3 separate regions of the Homo sapiens genome follow, and all the other regions are reported to be linked to region 2. Evidence: microRNA targets listed by miRTarBase, many of them from high-throughput screens and not tested one by one. Region 2 holds a microRNA gene; each other region holds the end of a gene's coding sequence.

Evidence for each region. Region 2 holds the annotated microRNA hsa-miR-5580-5p (UGCUGGCUCAUUUCAUAUGUGU, at 2,644-2,665, opposite strand). A microRNA usually pairs through its seed, bases 2 to 8, with sites in the 3' UTR of a target mRNA and lowers its output. Matches are read on the target gene's strand: a 7mer-m8 pairs with bases 2 to 8, a 7mer-A1 pairs with bases 2 to 7 and ends in A, and an 8mer does both.
Region 1: miRTarBase lists NDOR1 as a target of hsa-miR-5580-5p. Seed matches in the 3' UTR shown: 7mer-A1 at 499-505, 7mer-m8 at 525-531, 7mer-m8 at 547-553, 7mer-m8 at 627-633 and 7mer-m8 at 1,682-1,688.
Region 3: miRTarBase lists NAT10 as a target of hsa-miR-5580-5p. Seed matches in the 3' UTR shown: 7mer-m8 at 5,568-5,574.

Annotation. Positions count from the first base shown.
Region 1 is chr9:137,215,995-137,222,994 of GRCh38, forward strand. It overlaps NDOR1 (NADPH dependent diflavin oxidoreductase 1), which reads left to right. Exons shown (of 14, transcript NM_014434.4): 12 at 1-23; 13 at 100-194; 14 at 278-3,367. The coding sequence ends at 422. It overlaps RNF208 (ring finger protein 208), which reads right to left and starts at 6,246. Exons shown (of 2, transcript NM_031297.7): 1 at 5,995-6,246; 2 at 4,265-5,744. The coding sequence starts at 5,218. The coding sequence ends at 4,433. LOC122513141 (ring finger protein-like) reads left to right here and starts at 1,500. Exons shown (of 1, transcript NM_001395982.1): 1 at 1,500-3,367. The coding sequence starts at 2,003. The coding sequence ends at 2,608. RefSeq lists enhancers at 1,211-1,950, 1,951-2,690, 2,691-3,430 and silencers at 1,370-1,547, 5,799-5,848, 6,789-6,838.
Region 2 is chr14:53,945,820-53,953,886 of GRCh38, forward strand. It overlaps MIR5580 (microRNA 5580), which reads right to left and starts at 2,665; the gene lies at 2,608-2,665. BMP4 (bone morphogenetic protein 4) reads right to left here. Exons shown (of 4, transcript NM_001202.6): 2 at 7,457-7,581; 3 at 6,034-6,410; 4 at 3,917-5,069. The coding sequence starts at 6,403. The coding sequence ends at 4,213. RefSeq lists enhancers at 1-529, 530-1,060, silencers at 1,031-1,080, 7,721-7,790, 7,841-7,930 and a promoter at 7,937-8,067.
Region 3 is chr11:34,145,064-34,152,063 of GRCh38, reverse strand. It overlaps NAT10 (N-acetyltransferase 10), which reads right to left. Exons shown (of 29, transcript NM_024662.3): 29 at 5,156-5,980. The coding sequence ends at 5,872. It overlaps ABTB2 (ankyrin repeat and BTB domain containing 2), which reads left to right. Exons shown (of 17, transcript NM_145804.3): 17 at 1-1,077. Among named protein-coding and RNA genes, the nearest start is that of NAT10, 43 kb to the right of the region's middle. RefSeq lists enhancers at 1,615-2,144, 6,454-6,623, 6,854-7,000.

The DNA of each region.
Region 1 (7,000 bases), not on the chromosome of region 2:
TCCCTGCCTTCTCCCGGGAACAGGTGTGTATGCTCAGGGGCTGGGAAAGGAGGGGAGGGAGCTCCGGCTCAGCCCCCAGCCCTGTTCTCTGCCCTACAGGAGCAGAAAGTATATGTGCAGCACCGGCTCCGGGAGCTGGGGTCGCTTGTGTGGGAACTGCTGGACCGCCAGGGTGCATACTTCTACCTGGCAGGGTGAGCTGGCCTGCGTGCAGCAGGAGTGGGCCCAGCCCCTGAGTGCCAGGCCTCATTGCGCCTTCTGCGACCTGCCCCTCTAGCAACGCCAAGTCCATGCCAGCGGACGTCTCGGAAGCCCTGATGTCCATCTTCCAGGAGGAGGGTGGACTCTGCAGCCCGGACGCAGCCGCGTATCTAGCCAGGCTCCAGCAGACACGGCGCTTCCAGACAGAGACGTGGGCCTGAGGCCCGCGGCTGCCCGTGCCCCCTCTGACAGCCATCCTCCTGGGAGCCCAGGAAGGCATCCACGAGGGAGCTCCTGGCCAGCAGCCGTCATCCTCTCGGACCAGCCAGCTGGTCCTCTGGGAACAGCCAGCTCCCGAGCACAGCCGCACTCCTGTTGACCCTGGATCCCACCCTTTGAGCCTGACCCCACTGCAGCCTCTGCCCAGCCAGCCCTGCGCTCCCCCACCCTGACAGTGAGCTGTGTCCTCGTCCCCCCACCCCCTTCCCAGTCAAGGTGGTGGCCTGGGCCGCTCCACCTCACCGGTGCAGTGACCCAGGACGGCATCAGCAGCCCAGTGAGCACCAGGGGTGGCATAGGGCACCCATGAGGCTGCGCTGCACTCCTCTGCCCTGGGGCCACCTCGGCTGCTGCAGCCTGCCCAGCAGCACATTCCAGTCACTGCCCCCGCACTCCCACAGGGCTCAGGCTGGGCTCAGAGGCCACTGAGATGCCAGCTCCTTGAGAGCAGTGGGGGTGTCCCAGGCCAGAGCAGCCTCTTCCTCTCCTGGTCCCAGAAAAACCCTTGCAGTAAATGGTGGCCTCTGGGTGGTTACTTCTAGCGCAGGCTTCCTTCCTTCCTCTAGCTCCTCCCGGTGCCCTGGGTGCTGGGTGCTGGATGGATGGGCGTCCTCTAGCTCCTCCCGGTGCCCTGGGTGCTGGGTGCTGGATGGGTGGGCGTCCTCTAGCTCCTCCCGGTGCCCTGGGTGCTGGGTGCTGGATGGGTGGGCGCCACGGTGCACCCTTGTTGGGCTGCCTGTGCCCGAGTGGCCTCTGCAGCTCTTATGTCTGCCTCTAATGGGATGTGCGCCCTGACTGCCTCGTTCTTAAGGGCATAGTGGGTCGGCTAAGATCTGATCGCCAGGACTGCGTTCTGGGCAGGTGCTGGGAAGGCGGAACCAAGCCGTCCGTGCCGCTAGGGAGCCGAGACTGCCGGAAAGAGGAGCGGCAGGAGGGGGCGTGGTTGTGCAGCCCCACCCCCGGGAGGGGCTTTAGGCACTGGGAAGGAAAGTCCTGTTGGAGGAGTTCGGTGGCTGTTCACACCCGCCTCGCTGTCTTGGAGTCTTGATCTGTCGTCGGCGGGTCGCTGGCACAGGACTAAACATGGCTGAGGCTGGGCTCCAGCCAGATCTGGCTGGGGACAGCACCGCGTGGGCCCAGGATCCACCCAGAGCAGGCAGGCCTTGCTGGGGCCCCAGTCAAGTCCACTTCCAGTGAGGAGAGCCAGCCGGGAGGTCAGTGCCAGAGCTCTGGTGGAGCCCAGACCCTGCCTTCCCTGAGGGCCGCCCCTGTCGCCGCCCTGGGGTCCCTGTCCTCCTATCCTGACTCCTGCCCCAGGGCCACCACCCCTGAACTGTGCCCTGGGGCCCCCACCCTCCACCTGGCCGACTCCAGCTCTGGGCCTGTCAGTCCACCTGGGTCCTCTCTGGGCCCTGAGTGCCTGGACCCTCTGTGCCAAGCACCAGCAAGCAAAGGGGATGACCTTGGGCACCCCCAAGGTGCTGAGACTACAGCCAGTGAGCCCCTGCTGGGGGCCAAAGCCATGGAGGGTGCCTGGGCCCTTCCAACCTGGAAGGAGGAGGGGAGAGAGCAGGCAGCAGGGCAGGGGGAAGAGGAGGAGTGCCCGATCTGCACAGAGCCCTACGGGCCCAGAGAGCGCCGCCTGGCCCTGCTGAACTGTAGCCACGGCCTGTGTGTGGGCTGCCTGCACAGGCTGCTGGGCTCGGCCTCCAGTGCCGACCTGGGCCGGGTGCGCTGCCCGCTGTGCCGCCAGAAGACGCCCGTGCTGGAATGGGAGATCTGCCGGCTACAGGAGGAGCTGCTACAGGCCGACGGGCCCTCACGCCAGCCCCGCCGAGAGGCCCCTGCATCCTATCACCGCAACCCTGGGCCCTGGGGCTCCCTGGAGCACCGCTACCAGCTGCGCTTCCTGGCAGGGCCCGTGGGCGGCCGGGGCTGCCTGCCCTTCCTGCCCTGTCCACCCTGCCTGGGTGCCCGGCTCTGGACCCTGCGGGAGCGGGGACCCTGTGCCCGCCGCCTGGCGCTGCTGAGCCTGCTGGCCCTTGAGCTTCTGGGGCTGCTGCTGGTCTTCACGCCGCTCCTGCTGCTGGGACTGCTCTTCGTGCTCCTGGACCGCTCTGGCCGCTGAGCAGAGCCCAGGACAGCCCCGCCGCCAACAGGCCAGGGGGCCCAGACTGGCCCACGTCCCCATGCCTGGGTGCTGTGAGGCCTGATGACCAGGCTGGAAAAACCCAAGGTTGGGTCCAGGGCAGTGGCCTTCAATCAAGACCTCCCATTGCTGAACCCACAACCAGGGCTACCCAGAGGCCTGACCCTGCCAGAGTCCATGGCTGCACTGCTGCCCAGACACTAGCTGAACCCAAGGACACCAGCGCCCAAGGACAGCTCCTGGAGGAGGCCAGCCCAGCAGGAAAGTCTGTGAGCAGGACCCCATTCACCCTGCGGCAGACGGGCACCGTACTGGCCACGGGCTGACGCCGGCCACACTTCCCCTCCGAGGGCCAGCTGAGCACAGCAGGCATGAAAGCAAACAGAGATACAGCAGTGAGTCAGTTCCTTGGAGAGGGCAGGGACTCCGCCCACCCTGTGTTCAGATAAGGGCCAGTGTGTGTCCCTGAAGGTCAGGCCAGCCGGGGGAGGGGTCCATGCTGCGAAAATTCAGCCTGCAAAGGCTCCTCTCCCCACTTGATCAGGCCCAGACCAGGTGGGGGTTGGCGCTGGCCTGTGTTGCAGGGGACAAGGGCCCACCCAGGCCTTGGAACATAAGCTCTGCCCCTGCACACCCTCATGTCACCACACCTGGGATGGAGACATCAGGTGGCCCAGCGAGAGATGGAGGACTGATCCTGGAACGTGAAGCAGCTTTCAATAAACCAGCTCCTGGGGATGCCATTGTTACTACTTGTCTTTGTTACCCCATCTTCACCATCTGGGCGGGCTTTTTTTTTTTTTTTTTTTTTTTGAGACAGAGCGTCACTTAGTCACTCAGGCTAGAGTGCAGTGGCACGATCTCTGCTCACTGCAACCTCCACCTCCCGAGTTCAAGCAATTCTTTTGCCTCACCCTCCTGAATAGCTGGGATTACAGACATGCACCACCACACCTGGATAATTTTTTTTGTATTTTTAGTAGAGAAGAGGTTTCACCACGTTGGCCAGCCTGGTTTTGAACTCCTGACCTCAGGTGATCCATCCGCCTTGGCCTCCCAAAGTGCTGGGATTACAGGCGTGAGACACCGCACCCAGCCTGGGGCGGGCTCTTCCTCCCACCCAAGTGGTCCAGGTGCCAGACAGGAGGCGCTGGGTCCTTATTCCCCTACCACCATTTCAGCCAGTCTTTGTCCCTAACTCCTGCACATGCCCAAAGGCTACTCCCACACAACCCTGGAAGACCCAGGTGGGTGCTCAGGTCCAGATGGGCACCAGGAGGGAAATCAACTGAGTTGTCCCCCACACAGGCACCCCCACACCATTGAAAATGTCCTCTCTGCCCAGCTGGGGTGTCTCTGCACACCCACCAGGTAGTCCTGCCAGGCGCACACAAGCAGCCCACTCTGTACGTGTGGGGGTTTGCACCGACACAGCCCACCCGGCCCTCCTGAGCTGCATGCACAGCCCAGCCTGGCCCCCAGTGCGCAGGGCAGGCCCAACCCGAGCAGCGCTGGGCCTCTCTCTGGCAGCTCCAAGCTGGGCCCTCTCTGGGTTGCAGCCCTGGGTGCCCACCCTAGGCCCAGGCCTGAGCACAGCCCACAGGAGCAAGCTTCAGTCCAGGAACAGGTGCAAACTTTGGCAAAGAGTTTTAATGGCAAAGTTGGCTGCAGCGACAATGCCACTCGGGGTGGGGCCGGAAGCCATGGTGGGGAAGGAAGGGTCAGCGGGCGGCAGGGCAGGGCCGGGTCCCTGAAGAAGCAGCGAGCGAGGCTCAGCGGGCAGTGGCGGGCAGGCAGGCGCTACTACATGATGGAGCAGGCGGACAGTGGGTTCCGCACGTGGCAGGTGCACGCGGCCCCACAGTACTGCCGGAAGGTCTGGTAGCAGCTGCCCTCGGGCTCAGCCCCCCACTGACCCCCGGATGGGGCCGTCAGCGCCTCAGGCGGCAGGCGGCTCAGGATGGACGTGTTGACAGCCAGCGCGGCCAGGCCGTAGTCGGTGAAGAGCACAGTCTCACGGCGGCAGGTGGGGCAGGAGATGAACTTGTACTTGGGGCAGGACTCGTAGAGAATCTGCAGGCACTGCTCACACACAGAGTGCAGGCAGGACAGCACGCGGGGCCTCCGCTGGGTGACATTGTAGGAGTGCCCACAGGTGGGGCACTCCAGGGGCTCGCCTGCCGCCGCCGAAGAAGCCGCCGAGGCCGAGGGGCCAGGCCGAATCACGTACTGATTCACAATGACCTCATCCTCTGGGGCCACGCGGGGAAAGCCCAGCTCCGAGCTTCCCTTACGGGGCCGCCGTGGCAGTGGCGGGGTATGGGGTGCCCCTTCCAAGGCAGGCATGTCCCCCCCACAGGCCTGGTTGACAATGATCTCTGTGTCTGAGGGCCAGGCACGCTTGGGTGCCAGAGTTGGGGTGGGCCGGGGAGCAGGCGGGAAGCAGGGGGCAGCCGGTAGCTCAGGGAACTTTTCAGGGTGGACAATCTTCATGGCCTCCATCTTGAGGATGACATGGGGACCCTTCAGGCAGGACATGAGGAGGCCCGGCCAGCCACTGCCCGCCTCGGGCCCGGGGTCAGAGGGCATCCGGCTGTCTCCAGTCAGACTGGATGTTCGGGTGGGTGGGGGCGTTGTGTGGGGCTGGGGGGCAGGTGACAGGGCAGCATCCTGGTCCCGCCAGGCCTGGGGGGGGCCCCGGACGGCCCGTGGACTCCTAGGGACAGCCGGCGAGAGTTGGGGGTGCAGGGCCCCCCCCAGTGGCCACAGTGGCTTCTCTGGTCCAGTCCTGGGAGGAGGAGGAAGGGGTGGGGGAGGGGGAGGCAGGCGGGGGCAGGGAGGGGTGGGAGGCTGCCCTGGGCTGGGGGTCTGGCCCAGGGTCTCACCCAGGGTCTCTGGCTGCTGAGGCTGGCGAGGGGGCGCGGGGGGGGCTCCCCCTGCAGCCGAGGTCAGCAGGCCGCGGGCCGGGACATCGGGGCAGGCAGGGGCTGGGTGGGCCCCATGGCTCCAGGACAGGGCGCCCAGGGAAGGCAGCTAGCCGAAGCGCTGGCTGCAGGAGGACCGGGGCGGCAGGCTCCGCGGCAGGAGCAGAGGCGAGGCCTGGGCCAGGCCTGAGCTGCAGGTGAGAGACGGCATGAGGGCAGTGCCCCGGCCACCCCCACCCTAGCCCTCGCCCTGCACAAAGGACCGGGCGCCCGACCTCTGACCCTGACCTCAGCCGTGGGATCCCGACCTCCGCGGGCCTCAGAACCCAACCCCCTCCCCGGTCCCCGCCTCCAAGGCCAGACGCACCTTCCCGAGGGCCGACCCCCGTCGCGTGGGGAGGGGCGCTGAGTCCGCCCCCGGCCCCCGCCCCCTGCGCTCACCTGCCCCAGCCTGGCGTCCCGGCCGCGCGCCGCCGCCGCAGAGGTTGTCTCAAAGGCAGGCCCGGACGCGGCGCCCGCGCCTCGGCCCGGCAGCTCGGGGGGCTCCGGCGGCTCCGGCGGCGGCCGCAGCGACCTCAGGCGATGGCGGGGCCCGGGCGGCACCGAGGGGCGCGGGCGCGGGCGTGGGGCGCGGGGCGCGGGTTTCGGCACGGCGGCGACGGCGGCAGGTGCGTGCGGAGCGTGGCGCGCTCTGCGGCGGAGGCGCGGGGACCGCAGTGCGCGCGGCGCCCGCCCGCGCCCGCAGCGCCACCCCCCGTCTGGGGACCCGCGCGGGGTCCGCGGGGCGGGGCCAGCCTCCCGGCCGCCCCTCGGTCCGCTCCCGGCGTCGCTCTCGCCCGCGGACTGCGTGGGGGGCAGGACCCCCGCGTCGCCCCCAGTTCTCTCCAGGCTGATCCTGGGTCCTGGTCAAGCCCCCGCCCCCCCAGATTCAGGAGGAGAATCCGGCTGTTCTCCTCCCTCACAGTAGGAGGCCTCAGGACTCTGGAGTGAGAGGGAGGGGACCTGCGCGGAGGATCCCAGGGGAGCTGGTTCCAGGGCCCACCGGTGCCTTCCCCCGTCCCCGGCCCCCCGCCCCATGGGAAGGCCCCGAGTCCTCCAGCTCCGCCTGTGCCCGGTGCCGTAGCTCAGATAGATCGCTGTGACTCTAAGGGGCAAGAGCGGGGCGGGCGGAGCGGATCAGAAGGCCGAGGCCGGTGGACGGACGGGTCCGGTGGGAGTGCGCGAAGGACAGGCTGGCAGCCCAGTGCGGGGTGGAGGCGGCCCTGAGGACCGCACCTGCCCGGACAGGGTGGCCCCTGGCACTCCAGCGCGCAGGCCCGGGCCTCTCCGCTTCCTCACCCGGGGCTTCCCTGCCCTCCTGGGTCCGCCTTCTGCCTGTGGAGCCCTCGGGCTTGCTGGTCACCGTGAGGCAGGGGACCAGGGCTTCGAGGGCCTCCGCTGCCACGCT
Region 2 (8,067 bases):
CAGAATTGTGCTAGTTTGTATCACAAGGTAAGCCTGAATAACTTTGCATCAATTCTAATTTGGCAGTCCACCAGTTATCCTAAATTCCCCTAGGGAATACTAATAACCTTCTGATTCCCAGGTAATGTAAGGTCACCAACGTTGCATTTGCATTATTCTTTTCCTTTTCAAAAGAGAGTATGTGAATAGTTTGTAAAATTGGTTTTGTGTTGAAGCAAAAGTATCTTTGATGACAAATAGTTCGGAGACCTGGGCCTGGGATAAGCTTTATGCTCCTGGCTCACCTTTGGAGAGGGAGTGGGGGCGGGCACGGTGAGTCCCCGGTCCAGAGGCCCTGCGGAGGTCAGCTGAGGTGCTGTCATTATGTATCATGGCTTGGCATCTCATTTCTGAAAGCAATCGTCCAGCTCCACTCTTGCACACCCGTGGCCTCTCCCGTTCACCTCCGTCCCCCGACTGTTGGGGAGCGGGGCCCTGGCTGCAGTTCAGCTGGGACCCAGGGCTCTCCGTGTCCCCAAGGGGCCCAAGACAGCGGCTCAGCCTTCAGGGCCAGTCTGCAGGTCCGACCCTCACCCAGCGGGCCTGTTTCCCACTCGCCCACGTCCCCGCTCCCATTGAGTCACCCCCATATGCAGGCCCACTGTGAGCTCGGAGGCAGGAGAGCCTCGCTCCCTAATTCCCGCTCTCTGCCCCCTACAGAAAACCCCTAAAGGTCTCGACCCCTCTTAAGCCCCTCCACCCCGGGGAGCCTTCCCCTGCAGACTCCACGCTTCTGCGCGGCCTTTTGACCCCATTTCGCATGAAATCTGCAGAGCGACCGCCCCAAGGACCAGCGAGCGCTAATCAGATCCGTCTGTGTCTGCAGAGCTTCACCTGAGGCCTGGGTCCCCGAGGGCGGATGAGCGGGCCGGCTCTCGGGCCCGGGCTGGGGGACCCGCAGTCCGCGGTCGGCGGGGATGGGGAGGGGTGGCCGCCTGCCGCGCGGCTCCCGCGGGCCGTCGCCAGGTGCACGGTCCCCCTGGTCCCCCGCAGGGAGGACGCCCCCTGGTGCCCCCGCCGCCGCCGGGCCTGGGAGCTCCAGAGCGGGCGGGAGGCGGGGTCGGCGGGGCTGGATCTTGACGCCAGTCCAAGGCCGGGTGACTACTGGGGTCTGCCCGCGCCGCGGACGCGCCGAGCCCTCTCAGTGTGGCGCTGCCCGGCGGCGAGGGGGGTGTGGAACGAAGCACGGTCAAGACAGAAAACAAAGTCAGCAGGTCACCTGGCAGGTTCTGGGCGAATTATGCAACGAAAGCAGGGGAATGTTTGATGCGTCCCACTCCACACCCCCCCAACCTTTTTTTTTTTTTTTTAAGCTCCTAGGAAGCCGGTTCCAGTTTAAGGGTTGGGTAGGGATCGACCAAGCAGCTCCTCTGATGTGGTTACGACTTTGCCGAACTCCTCAAGGGCGAGCTTCCCTCCCCATCTTTCTTTCAGTAATAGGAACATTACTCTGGAGAAAAAAAAAAAAAAAAAACATGAATGGGGTGAAATGGTAGGCTTGATCCAAAAGCAACGCCGAGAATCACCCTACGACTTCCGTCAGGTACTGAACTGAATATTAGGCAAAAATAGTAAATGCCGAAACCTAAATCACACACATCCAATTTTTTTTATTTTTTTTTTAATCTCCCCGGGTCTCAGGACTAAGCTTTCAAACAGAATTTAAAGAGTTAACGCTGGCCATAGCTCTTTGTTTTCCATGCTAACATTTGTGGCATTAGGACTATTTTGTTAACTAGGTATATGCAATTCACAGAATTTCACGGTAAATTCCCCAGACCAAATATTTGGCTGAACAAATAAACAACATTATCCATTCCTGAAAATAAGCCAGTAGGAGCGGGGAGGATGGAGGAAGGGGCTGGTTGCTAGAACTGGACAGCCACAGGGCTCAGTACTGGCCCTAGGATAATTTGTTCAAGTACTGGAGATCTACTGGTTCCTTTTCAATGACATCGACGTTTCAGAAAGTTGCTAGAAATTGGGCAAAACAAAATGAGGCTGCCTGAGGGCAATCTATAAGGGGCTTCCCTAAATGATTTATTTGAGCTCCATACCATTAATCAAAGGGGCAGCGACCTGGGGGGTTGGAGGGGTGGGGGAAGGATCCCTTTTTGCGGGGAGTTTTGGAGGAACTGTGTAGTCTTGCTGCCTTTGCCTGGGGCTCTGATGTCTTCTCTCCACCTGCGCTCTCCGGGGAGCTGGGGTTTTGGCAACCACCCCGCTTCAATTTTTATTGGTTTCCACTAAGCTGCTCCTTTTGGAGGAGTGTAGGACTTCAGTAATTAAAAACAAAAATGAATCCTGCTTCACCCACTCCACTCCCAGGAGCGTATGTAAGAAAGTGTGTACAAGAATGCAAGGGTGCACACCCCACCTAGAAAAATGCAAACGCCAGGAGTGTGCACCACACACATTCTTTGGGTGCACACACCACCAGCAACAGCAATACTACCGCTCATATCTACACCTTCATGATGGAGAAATGCGCTATCAGCCTTCCCCACAGAGAACATACAAAGACACTAAATGTTTCTGCTCCAAAGGGATCCAAAGGGATCTTGGTCTGTGCTGGCTCACTTCATATGTGTGAATTTTCTCAGCACACATATGAAATGAGCCAGCACAGACCAAGATTCAAGGCTTAATTTAGTTGTTGGTGGCAAGTAAGAAAAAGCAAAGGCCTCTCCTCTGCTCCTCTTAATCCCTACACCCGTCATTCCAGAAAGGCATTTATCTGCCTGCTGGGAGCCCTTAACTGAGGGTACATTAGCATCCTCCTTTTTATTAACTTTGTCCAAAAATTGAGCTTTTCCCTTTAAGAAACCCTAGCACAGAACATCAGATCTACCTCTTTCTGCCCAAGTCCAGGGAAGAGGGTGTGAGGGAGGCAGTACAGAGCGAAAAGGAGAGTTGACATTTGACTCGAGATTTCTGTATAATAGTGGGACACCTTCACAGTGCCTGCTTAGAAATTCTGACCCTTTAGTATCTGACCCCATTGTCAACCCCCACCCAGCCCAATCTGTTGGGATCCTAAACTTGATGAAGGCCTTCACATTGGGAAAAGAGGACAAGGGAAAAAGTCAAGAAACAATGGGAAATTCTATCAAGTGGCATATTAAAACAGTAGTCATCAAACTTTTTGAAGGTAGGGTACATTATTTGTTACAAAAAAAAAAAAAAAAGACAAAATAGCAGTGCATGCCTGTAATCCCAAAGAGGCCGAAATGAGAAGATTGCTTGAGCCCAGGAGTTCAAGACCAGCCTGGGGCAACAAAGAGAGAACTTGTTTCAAAAAAAAAAAAAGACAAAAGAAAAAACAAAAGAGTCCTACCTGGAGAAAAAAAAAATAAGTTTAAAAACATGCCTTCACACACACATTATGATGTTAGTGTACAAATTAGTTTTGATTTGGAAATATCACATTGGTACCTGTAATAACTGGAGATACCCTGAGGTATCATGAAAGCAGAGGTGGGTATCATTTTTCTAGGGTTGAGACCTCATCACGCTCAGCTGTGATACACCTCAACAGGTGAGTGAAACAGAAGATGTACAAGGGGCCTGAAATGAAGTCTTTAATCTGACCTACACTCCTTTCATCCCAGTGTTTCTCCAAGGCATGTGTCATCCAGATGGGAGAGGATACTGCATCCTTGTTAACATTAAATAGAAATAGAAAACAATTCATGCTGGCAATTACCATCTCTCTCTGCCAACAGTTTACTTCCTGTCCCTACAACTTAACCACCTCCAGGTACCACCTTTTGACTTCCATCCAGCCTCCAACTCACCTGAACAGAAAAAAGCCTCATTCAAAAGAGATGAGCCCGAAGGAAAAGAGAAAGGATTAAGGAGAAAAAAAAAATCATGATTTACCTTTAAAATAATGACTCATTTTATTTTTTTCTTTTAATACGTAGTTATAAATATATTTTGTCAAAATATATGATCAATATGGTCAAAACATTTGCACGTAAAGTCATAAATAAGGTCAAGGTGAATGTTTAGGGATTTTTTCCTTTTTTTTTTTTTTTTTTAAATAAAAGTCCAGCTATAAGGAAGCAGTCTGTGTAGTGTGTGGGTGAGTGGATGGGAACGTGTGTGTGTGGTGTATGTGGTGTGTGTGTGTGGTGTGTATATCTGTCTATCCTCAAGGACTGCCTGATCTCAGCGGCACCCACATCCCTCTACTACCATCTCCTGATAATTTTTCAGTACCACCTTATCATACTCATCCAGGTACAGCATGGAGATGGCACTCAGTTCAGTGGGCACACAACAGGCTTTGGGGATACTGGAATTGACAGAATTGACCAGGGTCTGCACAATGGCATGGTTGGTTGAGTTGAGGTGGTCAGCCAGTGGAAAGGGGCAGTCCCCATGGCAGTAGAAGGCCTGGTAGCCTGGTGGGGCCACAATCCAGTCATTCCAGCCCACATCGCTGAAGTCCACATAGAGCGAGTGGCGCCGGCAGTTCTTATTCTTCTTCCTGGCCCGCTGTGAGTGATGCTTAGGGCTACGCTTGGCCCTCCGGCGTCGGGTCAAGGCATGGCCCCGGCCATCATGGCCAAAGGTGACCAGGAGGGGCCGGAGCTGGGCCCAATTCCCACTCCCTTGAGGTAACGATCGGCTAATCCTGACATGCTGGCCCTGGTGGGTCCGAGTCTGATGGAGGTGAGTCACCTCAATGGCTAGCCCATAGTTTGGCTGCTTCTCCCGGGTCCAGCGAAGGACCGCAGGGCTCACATCAAAAGTTTCCCACCGTGTCACATTGTGGTGGACCAGTCTCGTGTCCAGTAGTCGTGTGATGAGGTGCCCAGGCACCACTTCTGCTGGGGGCTTCATAACCTCATAAATGTTTATACGGTGGAAGCCCCTTTCCCAATCAGGGCCCTGGTCCACCTGCTCCCGGAAGAGCCGAAGCTCTGCAGAGGAGATCACCTCGTTCTCAGGGATGCTGCTGAGGTTAAAGAGGAAACGAAAAGCAGAGTTTTCACTGGTCCCTGGGATGTTCTCCAGATGTTCTAGGCACAGTTAGGAAGGAAGGGGAAAAGAAAAAGCATATGAACTTTTTTCAAAGATGGAAGAGTCAAGAGATAGCTCAGGGTTGGGCAATGAATGGTGAATTCTGCTTATGCAGGGGAAACCTACTGGGGGAAAATAAGCATACCCCTTAATTTGAAGGAGCAGATAAGTGGGGCAGCTAACAAACCAGCAAAATGTAGCTAGCATTTCTCAAGCACCAAAGACAGAAACTATATCCAGCCTCCTTGATATGTCTAATAATTTCTATGTGTCAACTCCTCTATGGCACCACAATCAGACTCCTCTTTTAAACCCCCCACCTTGGCTTTGTGTCCACAGTTTTCTTTACAAGTGGTTGTAAAGAAAAAGAGGGGCCAACAGAGCACAGGCAGGAGGAAACATGCAGACAACCACCCTCTCCCTCTTCCACTATTGAGTATGTTACTAAACATTTCCCCAGCGATCTTGGAAACACAGAGCATGCCTTGTTGATCATGTTACAGAGGGGAAAATAAATTCCAACACAGTAATGATGCTGGTGGATTAATAACTCAGATTTACTTTGGAAAAGAAACATCCGCTAGGAAACATTCAGATCGGATTACAAGGCCCCTATTGAATAAACCCGACAAACACACAGCTGTAATATTAAATTCAGTAGGTGCTTTGAAAAAAACGGGCAGAAAACCTAGCAGAAAAGGCTTTGATATAGCAAAAACACACCGCTGGGGCTAGCCCACGTCTGAGTGCTGTCATTCCCCTTCCCCTGAACACCTCCCCCTCTGTCTCCAAAAAATAAGTTCGGCGGCAGCTCTGCAAATTCTTGGAGGTAAGCAGCTCTGTTCCTCAGCCTCCTGGACTGGGGCTTTGATGTAACCCGAACTCTTCTTCCCCAGGGCTTTCACTGCCCCTCTAGCCAGTCCCACCAGCCCTCCCCCACGCAGACTGGGGGAAGAGACTGACCTTCGTGGTGGAAGCTCCTCACGGTGTTGGCCCGGCTGGCCGGGCGCTCAGGATACTCAAGACCAGTGCTGTGGATCTGCTCTTCCTCCTCCTCCCCAGACTGAAGCCGGTAAAGATCCCGCATGTAGTCCGGAATGACGGCACTCTTGCTAGGCTGCGGGCGGCGGCGCAGCCCAAACATCTGCAGAAGTGTCGCCTCGAAGTCCCGCAGGAGCTCATGGCTCTGCCCTGAGCGGCGTCCTCCCGCGTGGCCCTGAATCTCGGCGACTTTTTTCTTCCCCGTCTCAGGTATCAAACTAGCATGGCTCGCGCCTCCTAGCAGGACTTGGCATAATAAAACGACCATCAGCATTCGGTTACCAGGAATCATGGTGTCTCTGGGGAGGGGGAGGGGAGTGGAAGGTTAAAGAATAAATAAACACCAATAAATAGGGAGAAATAGAGATGTGTCTGCATATGCATTTAGGGCTAGAAATGGAGGGGCAAGATGGAAAGCAGGTCAGAAAGATCAAGTTTGTGTCTTCTCCCTCACACCACCCGCCCACCCACCAGCTGCAGCCATGCACGGCCTGAAAGTAAGAATTGCCCTGTAATTACTTGGTCTAACTTGTTTACAGTCAAATAACCCCAAATCAGATAGCCTCCATCCTGTTAATCTTTTTTTGTCCTAACTGCTATCTGGGCCATGATCTCAGCGTGGCTTCTTGAAGGATAAACAGTTAACATTGAGGGGGTGAAAAGGGGTGGGGGAGGGAGAATTAAAATGGCATTGCTCTCCACTTTAGACCTTCAGCTTCTCTCCCTTTTCCTCCACCCTCAGAGCCCAACTTTCACAACTTCCAGTTGGTTCAGAGCCAGAGGGAGGGAAAGTGAGAGGCAGGGGCTGGGCGAAGACAGAGGGCGACAGGGTCCAGAAGCCGAGAAGGTGGTCTGGGAGCTAACCGGGTGGCTTGAGGGCTTATTTTATTGTGGCCGATGAGTTTGAAATATTCAGCCAAAAGTGCCTGATCGTGCCCGCTCATCCCCAGGGAAGGGGTGAGAGACGATTCCGGAGAGACCTCTGTGAGTTTTGACAAGAGAGTGGGAACGCGCCACGGAGACACTGGGGGCTCTCCCAGACAAGTTGGATAGGGGAAGGGAGTGGTTAGCCCTCAAGGTACAACCCCGGGCTTTCATCTCTTTAGCTCCCTCGCGCTCCCCTTTCTTGCAACGCTGAGAGGGCGAGTGCGCGCTAGCAGCACTTTAAAAGGAACCCGTACGCTTCCAGCGCCCCGGCTGCCGGGCCAAGAAGGGAGCGACAGTGCTGCCAGGGAGCAGAGTGTGGATATTGTAAAGGAGGTCCGACGGAAGGGACAGCCGGCGAGCAGGGGTGGTGAGGGCAGAGTGAATTCCGGGGAGGGGGAAGGAAGAGGTGTCTACTCACTGACAGAAAACAAGGCATATAATAACAGTCCATGATTCTTGACAGCCAATCTTGAACAAACTTGCTGGAAAGGCTCAGGGAAGCTGCAGCAGTGCGTTGCTCGGGATGGCACTACGGAATGGCTCCTAAAAGGAATATTTGAATATAATGAGACTCCACCGCAGACAGGCTCTGTTTTTCTTCCAGCCCCTCGGAGTCACGTGAGCGCCGAGGCCCCTCCCGCGGCAGGCGGCGAAAGGGCTTGCGCGCCCTCCCCTCCTCCACAGCCCCCCGCCCCTCGCGGGCCCGCCCCTCCAGGCGAGGCCAACCTCCGCGCCCGCCGCCCGAGCCTCAGCGGTCCGGGAGGAGCTCCCGGCGGCGCTCGGCAGAGCCCTCGGCCGGTGCCCCGCGGCCGCCGCGCTCCCAGGGCTACTGGCGCAGCGCACGGAGAACCCGGTTCTCGGCGCGGTGCGTCGTGCTGGGCCCCCGCGCCGGGCCACCTGAAGCCAGAGGATTTGGGGCGCACTGAAGGGACTGCGTCTCCCAGCTCGAACCCGGCTTAAGTGGGGCCGGGAGCGAGGTCGGGAAAGTCTCACCCGCCCAAAGCCTCACCACCGAGAGGCACTTAAAAA
Region 3 (7,000 bases), not on the chromosome of region 2:
CGCCCAGGCCCTCCAAGCTCTACTCACCCCTAGGGCCTCAGTAAACTCAGACCATCCCAACTGGGGCTCCTGGGGGTACAGGAATCCTTATGAATGTATAGAATGCATACTGCCTAGGCCCCCAGTCGTCTGCAGTAATTCAAAAGCTGGTATTTTTCTTCCTAAATGTCACATAGCAAAGGCTGCCCAAATCCCCAAACTTGTTCTTCAAAGGTTTGACAGGCTTAATGTGGGCATCCAGTGGCCTGTGGACCCCCCCCTGCCACCACGACTGCTGCCACCCGGAGTTCCCCCATTGTCTTTGGTGCCTGGGCTTCCAGAGTCCCTCCCATCAGGACTACCAGCTTGCTCAGTTAGCAGCAGAGGGCAGTTCCCCAGCTTGATGGTTTCTGAGCTAAGTCTGGCATGGAGGGGCAAGGGGTAGGGGATGGGGTGCTGTGTAGGAATGGCCTCAGCTCTTGTTTTGCTGCTGGTTTTAGGGGCCAAAGTAAATGGGTGGATTCTGGAACCTCAGGCCTAGACTAGGTTGCCTTTGTGGGGGCGATGAAGCAGAGTCCCCTGGTCAAGTCTCTCGGCTCCTTTAATGTAGGATTGAGAGCTGGGCAAACAGGTCCCACTGGGGACTGTGACTCTTGGAGATTAAAGGACAGGGCATTGATGGAAGGTAAGGGCCAGGAGAAGAGGCCTTTCTGCTGTGTCCCCTCACGGCCTTGCCCTCGAATTCTGCAGGCCCTGGGCTCCCCTGACACCTGTCATATTTATGGACCAGACACTGGGGCAGCATCAGGCACAGTCTGTCTGGGTGCAACTTCTTCAGCTGTCTGGCCGCACCTTAAAAACTATTTATTCACCAAAAGCCCCAGGCATTTCAGAAGGTGGCACTCAGGTCACCCTGAAAAGCCCCCAGGGGCTTGCAATTCTGGAAAATATTTTGACTAGCTGCTTGGCTGGATGTACAAAGAAATAGGCATTATTTTATTGCTGTAATATTGTATGATACTTTAACTGTACAATAATGTTGTCACTTACTGTAAATGTACTATGGTTTTATTAACAATAAACACTCATTAACAATGACCTTGGCCTCACTGCTCCTGGTAGAGGGTTACTCAGAGTTCAGAACTGGGGAGGAGCCCCTTAGGACCAGGAAGAGATCCCAGAGCTAACGCTGTTACTCAGGTCTCCCCCCTCTCAGAGCCAAGACCCTACCAAAGCCATTGCTGTGGCCACCCAGCACTCGCCTCTCTCCAGAAACGAAGCCTGGATCCATTCCTCACCCGCCCACGCTCACATTTAATTAAGCACATGTGTGCCACTGAGCTGGACAGACACCAAATGACTGAGGAATATGACACTATCAGGCTTTCCTGATCTCCACTCCCATCCCCTCCACGGCCCTTTATGTGGGAGCTATTTTGGGGGTTGTCTTCAGAGGCACATCCCCAAATGGCACAGCCCACCAAAGTGGCAGCAGGGCCTCCTTCACCCAGGCCTGACCTGGCCTGATTGATTTGAGGGACCTATCCCTGGGTGACTGCTGCCCCCAGGCCCAGCTAAGCTAAGCTGGCTGTACCACCACAAGGCCACTAGCAGAGGTAATGGAGGGAGATGGTGAGGCGCCGACTCAGGTCCAAGAGTGTACTGGAGTTATGGCTGTAGTTTTAGGTGCAAAGTTCAGGCACAAATATAAGTTTTTAAAACATTCCCTGCCAGTTAGCTGGGCATAGTGGTGCACATCTGTATTCCCAGCTGCTCAGGAGGCTGAGGTGGGAGGATCACAGAGCCCAGGGGTTCGAGGCTGCAGTGAGCTATGATCACCCCTGCACCTCAGCCTGGACAACAAAGCAAGACTCTCTCTCAAAAAAAAAGTCGCCTGCCTGCCTGCCTGAAACAGGTATAGAAATTCCTAAGGTCACTGAGAACCTGAACCAAAGTGGCTGTGGGTCAGTGACCGGCCGTGACTCAGGCGTTAGGGGAACGACATAAAGATCCCAGTCCCTGGCAAAGCCCAATTCCAGCAGGAGCTGCGCAGGGCAGCTCGAGGCCCAGCCTGGGGACCTGTGGCCGCACAGACCCATGGTGCCCTCTGGGGGCCACTAGGAGGGGGCGCACTCCCCCACACCATCTTCCTGTGCAGTGGCCCAAGACGGTGGTGGAGCGGGCTGTCCGTCCCCAGCACTTGCCATTCAAAGTGGCTGCCCTTCATGGGTCTGTGTCCAGCGTCCCCACAAGTTCCCCCATCCCTGCAGGACATGCCTTGGTCCGTACCCAGCCTAGAAAGCAAGATCTAGTTGCATTCTGGCTCCAGATGAGGGATCCACCATTTCCTCTCTTGAGAGGGTGAGTGGGGGGTTGAGAGAAAGTGGAGGTAGGAAGGAGGGAGCGGGCCCCTTGGAGCCTGTGGGTAGCAGGAATACATTTTTGAATAAACATTTAAAATTAAAATAATTACCAAAAAAAAGCAGACATGCTTCCAAGGGGCTAGGACTCAAACAGAAATGATCACTTACCCAGGCAGCTGGACCTCCTAATTCCGGGCCACTGCTCACGGCCTGCCCTGCTCCGCCTGCTATGAGCAGCCACAGGCAGGCTTGGGGGAGTTACCCTCTTACTGGAGCCCTTGAGGACCCAGGTGCTGTGAGCATGGGTTGCATCTACAGGGATTTCACTCGGCTCCAGTGGGTCCACAGGCAAGCATAAGCTGGCGCCTTAGCCGTCTCCAAAGAAAACACCTCTCCAGAGGTGGCAGGTACCAGTCTGCTCCTGCACCGACAGGGCTAACACTGAGATTGTCCTTTTTGAGGCTGTCTGGTTTCTTTCCTGCATTCAAATCTTCTCCTGAAGCTTTCCTTTAGGCTCTCGGCCTGGAAGGCCAGTTATCCTTTTCCACATTAGTCCCCGTGCCAGATACCAGGTGGCTAGAGCTTTCTCAACGGAACCAGCCCAAGCAGGAAGCCCCGGCCTCTCCCTTTCAGGCTGCCTTTCAAGTCCGCTTTGCAGGATCCAGATGATGTTTAACTGGAACCAATTGTTTGTAGAATCAAGGGCATGCCCCCTCAGGGGCAATCCCCTGAAATTGTCTATTCCAGCCCAAGGGGCTTCCGACCCCACCCCCTCCTCCAGGCCTGCAGAATGGCTGCGGGTGTTGTAACAGGCCTCAGATAATGAGTCTACATTTTTCCAAGGTGACGGTCACTTATTTCTGCCCCTCCCCCACCTCCCAGCCTCAGCGGCCCCCTTTGTGTCCCGTCTCCTGGTCATCCGGAGTCCTCCGGGACTTCCGGGCCAGATGAGCAGTGGAAGCACTGAAGCAGGCCGGCATTAGCCCCGCCTGGCGAGGGGGTATGGGGGGTGACCATTTAGTAACCTTCTTTGTTCAGGCTTCTTCAGGCTCTTCCCCTTCTGGTGACAGCACTCATGGCTGGCCTATCTGAATTCATTTCGCAAGTGACATTTCCTAAGACAGCCAAGCTTTACAGATGTCACTCTGTCTGGGGGCCAGATGGTGAGGTGTGGGGGAGACATGCCTTTTCAGGTTTGAAGGAGAACCCAAGATCATGACCATAAAATGCAAAGACCCAAGCGTGTGTTTAGGAACACACACTTTGCAAATAAAGAGGCCTTGTCCAAGGATACAGAGATATTATACAGAGCCAGACAAGTCTGACTGCAAAATGCATGCTCTTCGCTGGCCAAGGGAGACTCCTTTTCTAGCTTAGGTTGTGGTTTTATAACATGGCCAGTCCTGGCCAAGTGTGGTGGCTCATGCCTCTAATCCCTATACTCTGGGAGGCCCAGGCGGATCACTTGAGGCCAGAGTTCCAGACCAACCTGGGCAACATATTGAGACTCCATCTGTACATAATTTTTAAAATTAGGCAGGTGTGGTGGTGAGCACCTTCCCAGCTGCTTGGAAGGCTGAGGTGGGAGAATGGCTTCAGCCCAAGAGTTCAAAGCTGCAATGAGCTATGATTGAGCCACCGCACTCCAGCTTGGGCAACAGAGCAAGACCCTGTCTGTTTTCAAAAGAACACCACAGCTAGTCCTTATTGAGTATTCTTAGAGCTGGCATGTAACTGAACTTGAGCGGCTCCTCTAGTTAGATCTGATGAGTGCCCAGAACCCAGAGGCACTTGCTATGTGCCAGGCACTGTTCTAAACGTTTCCCATTCTACCCCACCCACTTCTCACCACAGTCCCGTGACGGAGGTGCTATTCCTACCACTCAAATTTTGCAGAAATGGACCTGAAGGGCAGGTAGGATGAAGTAACCTGCCCAAGGCCACGGTGAGCGTCAGGGCAGAGCAGTCTACCTCCAGAGCCCTCACCTTGCACCCCAAAGCAGAGCCAGCCGGGGAGACTTTGAGGGTAGAGACACTAAACAAAAGCTTCCTTACCTGTAGGATGATATGCCTGGACAACTTGCACAGTCCCATCCAGCTCTGACCATTTGAGCATGTGACTCTGCTTCTGGCCACGGTCTAAGAAAACCCTCTTTGAAAGGCAGGTTCAGGCACCCACCTGAGAAAATAAATAAAAATTATTTTCATGCCCCCTCCCTGCCTCCAGCAAAATTTCCTACAGACCTAACAGAGGTCTGTGGCCAGGAAACTTCAGTCCCAAGAAACGAAAGACCCCTAGGCTCATGTCCTGACAGCCTCGGTGACAAGCCTCAGCAGCCCTAGGGTCGCATACAGAACCTGCTCTTCTCCCTGTGGGGACGAGTCCTAGGAGCTGTATATGAAATACCCTTAGGCTGAGAAGTTACCGTTTCCTTCCCTGTCCTTCTCTGAACCTAGACAACATATCGGGGCTGCAGACTCATTAGCCTGGATACCATTAAACAAACATACCAAAGTATGTGTAAAGCCACCAGGTTACCTCTGTTCCCAACAAATGGAAGGGACCAAGTGACCTGGAAGGAGCTGGGAAGGAAATGAGGCAGTTCTAGCTGGCTTCCAGCCACCACACCAAGCCCCTCGAGGTGACCATAGCCACCTGCCACTTCTCCCGCAGACTCCTGGGCTGGGAAGCCCTAGACACACTGCTCACCTTTGACCTTGATACCAACACCTTCCAAATTCCACCAGGCAGCCAAGACCCACCAGAAGAAACGTCCAGGTGCGTGGATTTCAGAACACTCACAGGCAGCTGATCTTTCTAGAATGTTATTTATTAAAAATAGATTCTCTATCCTTCCCCTCACCCCTGCGAGCAAAGTGGCCTTTCCCAACATCTTTTCCCAAATGGATGAAACAGGTCTTGAGGACGCAGATGTGGCATTCTACATAAACTACAGGATCAGGCTTTTCTGGGACAGTGGGTCTGCTGGAGCCAAGAGTGGAACAGCACAAGACAACATCAGCAAACCCTGGCGCACCTAACCGCGGGCTGCCATGGATGCCGGGACGGACTGGAGTTCCTCCTGCTCCAGGTACAAGTCCACAAAGAGAGACCCAGCGGCCCAGCAGCAGCCTCCTGGGCACCACCAGAAAGCGATGTACTTAAGGGCCTCAGGCGGTCGAGAGGCAACGTGGCTTCCACATGTGTGGGAATGAGACTAAAAAGCTGGCTCAAAGCAAAATATGAACTTATAGGAAAGGAGGGCCCTGGACTGGGCAGGAAGAGAGAGACTCGTGGCAATTCTAGAGATGGCAGTGCCCAGCCATCAAGTTCTAAAGAGACCCATTTGGGAGTGACTCTGCCTTTAGCCAGGTTGAGCTCACAGACACACAGGCCCAGAGGCCGAATTCGCGGCCAGCTTCCAGGTGTGCCGGGGCCTCTCGTTGCTTTTAACAGTCCAGCCAGAGAGGGTTCAGTTAGTGAGAGTATCTTCCCATGATCAAACACAGATGCCCGAGTTTCTCTTCACTATTTCTTCCGCTTCAGTTTCATATCTTTTTTGTTCTTTGTCTCTCTGTTCTTCAACTTCTTGCTCTGTTTGGGTTCTTGTTTGGCCTCTAACTTCCTTTTCTTGTCACTAGAGAAAAATCAAAAATAGAAAGAATGAAATATGTACAGATCTGAACATCTGAGACTGCTTTAAGCTTGCTTTGCTTTGTCAAAAAGGGTTTCCACCGTCTGAAACTTGATGTAGGCCACCCAATTGGACATTAATGTTCTCTGCAAACCTATTAGGGGGCAGGCATTGTGCTGGGGCTGGGGACACACCATACAGACCAGCTCCTGCCCTGAGCCAGCTCTTAGTCTGTGGAAGAACAAATCTCGATCTTAACACCTGAAATCCGGGTTCTCCTCAGGGTGCAGTACACTCTGCTCCCCTCTCCCAAGACAGACCTAAGGCACCACAAGGATTCCCCACCACCACTCTCACCACTGCAGTGACTCTGGAAACTAGACATATTCATCCCAATGACCCTGAAGACAGTCCTTAATACAAGGCATGAGACTCCAAGGAAAACCCTGCCATACTTTCTGATGTGCTACTATTATTTTATTTTTCCTATATGAGAAGAAGAAAACCCAAACAACAGTAACTCAGGTGACACCCTGCGACCAGCCCCTGGATTCTTCATTGATATCCTGGCATAGGAATCACTCAGCAAACGGCCACCTGCCATTAAGAAACTTACAGGTTAAATTTTGCTCTGGGAACAAATACTTCCCTATAAGGAGACCGTGAAGAGTTCAGTCCAGAGACCATTAACATCATATGAATGAAGTACCTCTCAAAGGAAGAAAAAGAAAGGCCTCAGAGGACTTAATGATAGCTACCAGTATTTTTAGCTCACAAAGTTCAAGCTTTCACATTTACTCAGAGCCATCAAGCACATGAACAACCACACAACACTGGTTTGTTGGGCTCGAGAGGCTTCTCACTACCAGCAATGGCCAAACAAATGGCAGGAAAGGCCAAGCTCTGCAGAGTGAGGAGCTGAGGCCGTCTCCACAGCAAGCATGCTCCCCGGCCTTTTGTTCCAGTCAAAGCCACCGTGCTCAAGGCCAAAGCCATCATGGGCCCTGTGCTACATTTGCCATA